2 linked regions of the Homo sapiens genome follow. The protein of the gene in region 1 purifies or fractionates together with the protein of each later gene. This does not show direct contact. Each region holds a gene or a part of one and is shown in the gene's direction. Other genes may lie near its edges.

Evidence for each region. Proteins that work in one complex are often made in the same cells at the same time.
Region 2: the proteins of UGT3A2 (region 1) and ACAT1 fractionate together in Homo sapiens (co-fractionation; one large-scale study listed by BioGRID). This does not show direct contact.

What each region holds. Positions count from the first base shown.
Region 1 is NC_000005.10:36,052,361-36,057,814, reverse strand, and holds part of UGT3A2 (UDP-glucuronosyltransferase 3A2 isoform 1 precursor), read left to right. Parts: intron 1-2,753; coding exon of another isoform or gene 2,754-2,834; intron 2,835-5,454. UniProt on the Homo sapiens protein: UDP-glucuronosyltransferases catalyze phase II biotransformation reactions in which lipophilic substrates are conjugated with glucuronic acid to increase water solubility and enhance excretion.
Region 2 is NC_000011.10:108,145,567-108,148,103, forward strand, and holds the end of ACAT1 (acetyl-CoA acetyltransferase, mitochondrial isoform b precursor), read left to right. Parts: intron 1-635; coding exon 636-793; intron 794-1,682; coding exon of another isoform or gene 1,683-1,703; coding exon 1,704-1,824; 3' UTR 1,825-2,037; downstream 2,038-2,537. UniProt on the Homo sapiens protein: This is one of the enzymes that catalyzes the last step of the mitochondrial beta-oxidation pathway, an aerobic process breaking down fatty acids into acetyl-CoA.

The sequences.
Region 1 (5,454 bases):
TAATCCCAGCACTTTGGGAGGCTGAGGCAGGAGGATCACTTGAGCCCAGGAGTTAAAACCAGCCTGGGCAACATAGTGAGACTTCATCTCTACTAAAAATAAAAATAAAACATTAGCTGGGCATGGTGTCATGCTCCTGTGGTCCCAGCTACGTGGGAAGCTGAGGCAGGAGGATTGTGTGAGCCCTGGAGGCTGAAGCTGCAGTGAGCCATTATCATACCACTGCGTTCCAGCCTGGCCAATAAAGTGAGACCCAGTCTGAGAAAAAAAAAAAAAAGAGAGAGAGAGAGAGAGAGAAACTACTGAAAGCTACAGACCTTTTACTCTTTAACAAATACAAGCAGAGCAAAATCTATAAACAATTCAAGGAATGTGTGGATCCTTTCTGTTTTTTCATAGGATTAGGAGTCTAGAGTTTCTTTTAATAATTCCCTCATCATGGATGTCTCTGAAACTTTGAAATAGAATTCCCATTTTTCATTTCATCCGTAGAGCTTGGCTGAAGGTCTGCAAACAAGGAAACACATGATTGGGTTATTATTTCTGATCAGATGCCCAATTTAATGAATTGAAACATTTGAGCCAATTATTAACTCCTTATTTGGAAACACTTTCCCATACTGTTTATTTATTTGCAACTTTAATAAATGACATCAGAGGCACTGAAGAAGCAAAGGTTTCTAATACTGACATGTACTACTGCTCCAACCAATCAATATCTGGAATCACAATTGGATTATACATATTGGCTAGAAGAATATTCAAGAGATATTCACGAGCATGAGAGAGAAAGCCTAAATTGCTTTGAACAGACTGTGAGTAGAACTGGAGATTCTAAGAACTCTGCTAGTGATGACTCAGAAGGAAGGAAAGAACATGATAGAGAAAATCTGTATTGTCTTAGAGACTATAAATCATCATACACAGGCTTTTTGTAGAAATATAGATGTTCAAGTGTTCTTACTGTCTATAGTAAAATGTGAGAGGAAAGATAAATTGAGAAAATAACTATGAGGCAGAAAACGAGGACTTTATGGTTTTGGAAATTCTCAGCCTATTAGGATGATAAAATATTTTAAAATTGGGGAATTCAATGTCAGGAAAGCAGTGTATCCTGTTGTCTTGTAGAGAAAGCCAATTGTATGGCTGGACAGCCTTTTGCTATTGCCTCTGCAGGATTAAACGGTCAGAGTATTCAGTCACACAGAAAGCTCACTGAAGAGATTAGCATGAAGCAGGTTTGGTGTGCACTGGTTACCAACTTGCCTGAGTCTGCTAAGAAAGAACACCCACATAACGCAACAAATTCCATGAAGTGGATTTATTACTTGCACGTGCGCAGCAACCAAAACCTAAAATTCATTGTGAGCTGGTCCTCCAAGGTTCAGAAAGCTGCCCGGGATGAATGGAGTCTCAACTGTACATGCCCCACTTGCCCTGCAGATAAAGGACCACGAAGTGCAGACCACCTTGGGTTTTATACCCTGGAGAAACATGACGTACTAAGCTAAGTGTTGAAGGACATCCTGTTTCTAGTGGAGACTGTAACAAAGCCTGGGCTATTCCACCCAGTACCTCTCTATCTCAGAGTGTTACATTTCCAGCACTTTCTGCAGTTATTCTTGATAACTACAAGTGACAAGCAGAGAGGAAAACAGGGTCAGCCCAAGGCCACCCTGAGAACTGTCCTGCAATTAGATGTATGTCTCATGGATTCCTTCAACCATAATGGCAGAAGCCACCAATCAAGATGAAACTATCTCGTAAAGATGTGTGGAGGCTGGGCGCGGTGGCTCATGCCTGTAATCCTAGGAAATGAAACAAAGGAAAAGGAAATGAAACAAACAAAGGAAAACATGGAAAAGATGGATAGGACAAGATAATGACTAGTCTACACATAAAATAAAATATCTATTTCCGCAAATAAACATAAACAGAGGATCATCACTATCTCACAGACCTGGTGAAAAGGAATGAGAACATGTCCCTGAAAGGATATTTATTCTTGTTCAAAATAAACAGGTTGAAATGAAAAGGAAAAGGAATAGAAGTAAAATATTATTGCTACTTAGATCAGCAAGGTAGAGAGGAGGCACATGGAGTTGGGGATAAAAGAAAAGAAGTAAATGAGTAAAATAATTGAGGGGATATTACTATAAGGCAGCCAGCCAGATAAAAGATTTTAATGGTCCACATTACAGAGGCAACATATTAAAAGGATGATGAGGTGAACATCTAGACACTAGCTGGTGGTCTTGCTCTTCTAAAAGTCAGTGGATCCTAGGCCGGGCACAGTGGCTCACACCTGTAATCCCAGCACTTTGGGAGGCTGATGCAGGCGGATCACCTGAGGTCAGGTGTTTCAGACCAGCCTGGCCAACATGGTGCAACCCTGTCTCTACTAAAATACAAAAATTAGCCAGGCATGGTGGCTCGTGCCTGTAATCCCAGCTACTCAGAGGACCGAGGCACATGAATCGTTTGAACCTGGGAGGCAGAGGTTGCAGTGAGCCAAGATTGTGCCATGCACTCCAGCCTGGGTGGGTGACAGAACGAGACTCTGTCTAAAAAAAGAAAAAAAAAAACAAACTGCAGAGCAGCCTCTTGTTTAGTGGAATGAATTACTATGACATACCCACGAGGGTCACAAGGTACCCCCCCAAATTTTTTTTTTTGAGATGAAGTCTTGCTCTTGTCATGCAGGCTGGAGTGCCATGGTGTGATCTCAGCTCACTGCAACCTCCTCCTCCCAGGTTTAAGCGATTCTCCTGCCTCAGCCTCCCGGTACCCAAGAATTTTATACCTTCAGAAGTACTGCCAATTTGGACTAAAAGGTATGAGGAGAATATGACAGGGAGGAGAATATGACAGGAAGGAGGGCTGTTGAACTCCCCAGATTCTGCAAGTAGGAAATAAACTGACAAACCACTCAGCTGTAACCACATGCAACGATTCATGAAAAACGAAGGAAAACTCTGAAGGTGAAGCAATGAGCCCAGATGGCAGAGCTTCTAGCCCAGAAGGCTGAGCCAAACCACAGGATTATTTCCAGTCCTTAAAACCTAATTTTGTTTGCCCAGTTGGAGTCAAAATGTCTTGGGACTGGCACCTCATTTTTTTTTTTACTTTCTTTTTGCCCCCATTAGAATAATGTCTATAATTGGTATCCTATGCCTGTCCCACTATTGGTTTTGGGGAGCAGGTCATTTTTTCCTAGTTTCATAGATCCACAGAAGGAGAGCAATTTTGCCACTGAATGGATTACACCCAGACTCTCACCCACACTTGATGTAGATTATTTGGATGATGTGATTTGGGAATTCCGAGCTGATGAGCTTTAGATGAGATTTTTCACTTTGAATTGATAATATAATTGTTTGGGACTTTGGGGGATGTTGGGACAAGATGAATACATTTTCATTCCAAGAGGGGTGTATATGAATGTCTGGGATCTAGAGAACACTCTGTGGTAGGCAAATAATGCTCCCTCCCAAAGATATACATGTCTGAATTCCTATAATTATGAATGTGCTATTTTACATGTTCGAAAGGCAAAAGGATCTTTGCAGATGTGATTAATATAAGGATTTTGAGACAGGGAGACTATCATGGATTACCCAGGTGAATCCAGTTTAAATGCAAGAGTTCTTATAAGGCAAGCTTGTCTAACTCGTGGCCCACCAGCTGCATGTGGCCCAGGACAGCTTTGAATGTGGCCCAACACAAATTCATAAACTTTCTTAAAACATTATGAGATTGTTTTTGCAATTTCTTTTTAGCTCATTAGCTATCATTAGTGTTACTGTATTTTATGTGTGGCCCAAGACAATTCTTCTTCTTCCAATGTGGCCCAGGGAAGCCAATAGATTGGACACCCCTGTTATAAAGGAAAGAAGATGGTAGGAGAGTTAAAGAAGTGATGATGGAAGAAGAAATCAGAGTGATGTGATTGCCTGTTGGAAGGGGGCCATGAGCCAGGGATGCAGGTAGCCTTGAGAAGCTGGAAAAGGCAAGAAAATGGATCGTTCCCCAGAGCCTCCAGAAGAAATGCAGCTCTACCCACACCTTGATTTTATTCTAATGAGACCCATTTTGGACTTCTGATCTCCAGAACTATAAGACAATACCTTGTGTTGTGTTAAGCAACTAAGTTTGTTGTAATTTGTTAAAGCAGCAATAGGAAACTGAAACAGCCATGATAGGTGCTCAGAAGAACTCCAGGAGGCATGAAAGGAGGATGCTAAAGCCTTTACAGTGCAGGTGTCCCTGGCGGGCACTAATGAGAGAGCCTGTTGTATTGCAACTTGGACAGATTCTAGAGCCTTCTGTTACAGGGGTTCCTATGCAATGTGGGCTGATTTTCAAGTAATAAACATGAGTGGACCTAAGTAAAATTTATAAATAAGGAATATGTTGTCTTTAAAGTGTAAAAAAGGCCTAAAAGATGTTGGGCTTGTAACATTATGGGCACAGAGATGCTCAATAATTGTTTCTTAATAGTATTGGGGATGGAGAGGTCTTCAACTAACCAAATGATCCTTTGGAATTTAAGTGAGGGACTGGGTCTGATACTTTGCATGGGACAATGGCTTATCCCCTTTGTGAGCTCCTTTTTGAATGTTTCTATGTCTTAAATGAGTGTGGCAAATGAATCTCCTCAGAGGAGGACACCCTCAATGTAATGTTATATCTGTACTCCTGGAGAAAGCTGGAAGCAGTGGCTCTTGCTGGCAAAGATTGTGGGCAATAGTAGGGCTGTTGAAGTATACTATGAGTAGCCATGCATTGTGTTTCTTCCAAGGTAAAGACACACTGTGGCTGAGAGCCTGTTAAAATCAGCATGGAAAAAAACATTCTAGCCAACTCTATGACTGCAAAGTATTTGCCAGTAGATACTTGGATAGAGTCTTTCATTTCAATTAGCTTGAGTATGAGGGCCTTAATATGTGGGGCTATCTGTTAACATACCCCCAATCCTTACACAAAATTTGATTTGGATGTGATGAAGGCACACATGCATTAAGAAGATATGAGAGGTTTATGACTCATAGGGTGAGGTATTTTTTTTTCTTTTTTTCAGAATAGCAGGACAGGCTCCCAGGCAAATCTGAAAAATGGCTTTAGAGAGCAGGGAGGGATGACTGGCTTGAGTTTTTACTGTGAGGAGGGGTAGGATGGGCTGAGGATTTCCTTTCATTGTCCTGACTTGCATGGATTGAAACTCCTACCAGGGATAAGAGAGAAGGTGTGTGTGAGTTTTCTTACCAATTTACTCAGATGAAGCATGGGGTTGGGAAGGGGAAATGGGGCTTGACATTTGTCAAGAGGCAAAGAGTGAAAATGGAGTCAGACTTCTTATTACACATGGATAATGAAGAAGGGGCCAAGCAGGCAAGTTGAGATGTAGGGGACTACTCTATTAATGAAGTCTTTTAGTACTTTTTGACTGAATTT
Region 2 (2,537 bases), on another chromosome or scaffold:
ACCAAGCAACACACAATCAGTAAAGCAGAGCTTAAGAATATATAAAGCATTATGTGCCCCTAAATAGAAAATGTACCTTTTCAAATATCTGTGGAAAGAAAATCAAATTTTCTGTCCCCTATGTCAAAACAGACATAATGCAAACAAAATTCTTTGATATAATGGAATAAGATGAGCAACTAAAAATCTGAAAATGGGCCGGGTGCGGTGGCTCACGCCTGTAATCCCAGCACTTTGGGAGGCTGAAGTGAGCAGATCACCTGAGGTCAGGAGTTTGAGACCAGCCTGGCCAAACATGGTGAAACCCTGTCTCTACTAAAAATACAAAAAATTAGCTGGGCATGGTGGTGGGCATCTGTAATCCCAGCTACTCAGGAGGCTGAGACAGGAGAACTGCTTGAACCTGGGAGGCAGAGGTTATAGTGAGCCAAGATGGCGCCATTGCACTCCAGCCTGGGAGACAGAGCAAGACTGTTGGAAAAAAAAAAAATCTGAAAATAGAGATCCTTCCATCTGAAACCAAGAACTTCCATATTTAAATAACTTATGTCAAACTGTAGTATTTCAAGGAAATGATGACAGTAAGTTGTGATTGCTAATTATTTGAACATCATCTGTCTTTTAAAAAATTTAAGGTTCTTAAAGATGTGGGATTGAAAAAAGAAGATATTGCAATGTGGGAAGTAAATGAAGCCTTTAGTCTGGTTGTACTAGCAAACATTAAAATGTTGGAGATTGATCCCCAAAAAGTGAATATCAATGGAGGAGCTGTTTCTCTGGGACATCCAATTGGGTAGGTAAAAATAATAACTATATCTAGGTTAAGAGCTGCCTTTGTGTTTCTAGCTAAACTTAAAACTGCTTCATAATTCCCATTGCTCTTAAGTTTTCCTTCCTACCCATCTTTCATAAGGCAAAAACCATTTCTGATAGATGGTATCCAATACTGAACAGAGACCTGTCACATCTGTTATTTGAAACCTAATAATGTTTTATGCTGAAGAAGAAAAAGTGTACATTTAGACTTTTTACCCCCTTTTTCTCCTTCCTATTTATTTCATTAGCTTTAGGGTACCGTGGGTTTTGGTTACATGGATGAATTTATAGTGGTGGGGGCTGATTTCAGTGCACCTGTCAGTCACCCAATATGTAGTTTATCCCACATCCCTCTTCCATTATACTCTACTCTTCTATCCATTATACTGTTCTGTACTTTTAAAAGATCTGTGACCTGGCCAGGCACGGTGGCTCACGCCTGTAATCCTAGCACTTTGGGAGGCTGAGGTGAACAGATCACGAGGTCAAGAGATAGAGGCCATCCTGGCCAACATGGCGAAACCCTGTCTCTACTAAAAATACGAAAATTAGCTGGGTGTGGTGGTGCACGCCTGTAGTCCCAGCTACTTGGGAGGCTGAGGCAGGAGAATCGCTTGAACCCAGGAGGTGGATGTTGCAGTGAGCTGAGATTCTGCCATTGCACTCCAGCCTGGCGACAGAGCGAGACTCCATCTCAAAAAATGATCTAAGATCTGTGACCCTTCCTGAAACAAGTCCTCCAAGTTTTAGTTTTAGAATAGTAGTAGTTAATTCAGCAAGTAGTAGTGGCTAGTAAGGTTTTCAAGAAGTTAAATTGGAATAGAAACATTTTGGTTAGTCATAAATTCTGTACTTCATTAAAGAAGTAAATGCTTTCTTAATTTTAGGATGTCTGGAGCCAGGATTGTTGGTCATTTGACTCATGCCTTGAAGCAAGGAGAATACGGTCTTGCCAGTATTTGCAATGGAGGAGGAGGTGCTTCTGCCATGCTAATTCAGAAGCTGTAGACAACCTCTGCTATTTAAGGAGACAACCCTATGTGACCAGAAGGCCTGCTGTAATCAGTGTGACTACTGTGGGTCAGCTTATATTCAGATAAGCTGTTTCATTTTTTATTATTTTCTATGTTAACTTTTAAAAATCAAAATGATGAAATCCCAAAACATTTTGAAATTAAAAATAAATTTCTTCTTCTGCTTTTTTCTTGGTAACCTTGAAAAGTTTGATACATTTTTGCATTCTGAGTCTATACTTATCGAAATATGGTAGAAATACCAATGTGTAATATTAGTGACTTACATAAGTAGCTAGAAGTTTCCATTTGTGAGAACACATTTATATTTTTGAGGATTGTTAAAGGTCAAGTGAATGCTCTTTATAGGTAATTTACATTTAGTAAATTACGGTAAATTAAATTACTTCTCTTTACAGTAAGAGTTGGCTATTCTGGACAAACTAGCAGTGCTTCATATAATCACTCAAACCACAGTGTGTGCAGCAGTACTAGAAACAAGACAGAAGCCCATGTCCTCAGGGTCTAGAGTGGGGGCAATTTCTTATAACCTCAACATTCAGGGTTGGGGGAGGTCAAGCAGAAAACCCTGGAGTTTGGGCTCTGAATTACTATAGCAGCATAGAGAGTGGGAAGGGAGGTAGAAACTGATATGCTGAATGGATATATAAAAAAGGGAACAGATCACCACTTCCAATACACGACAAT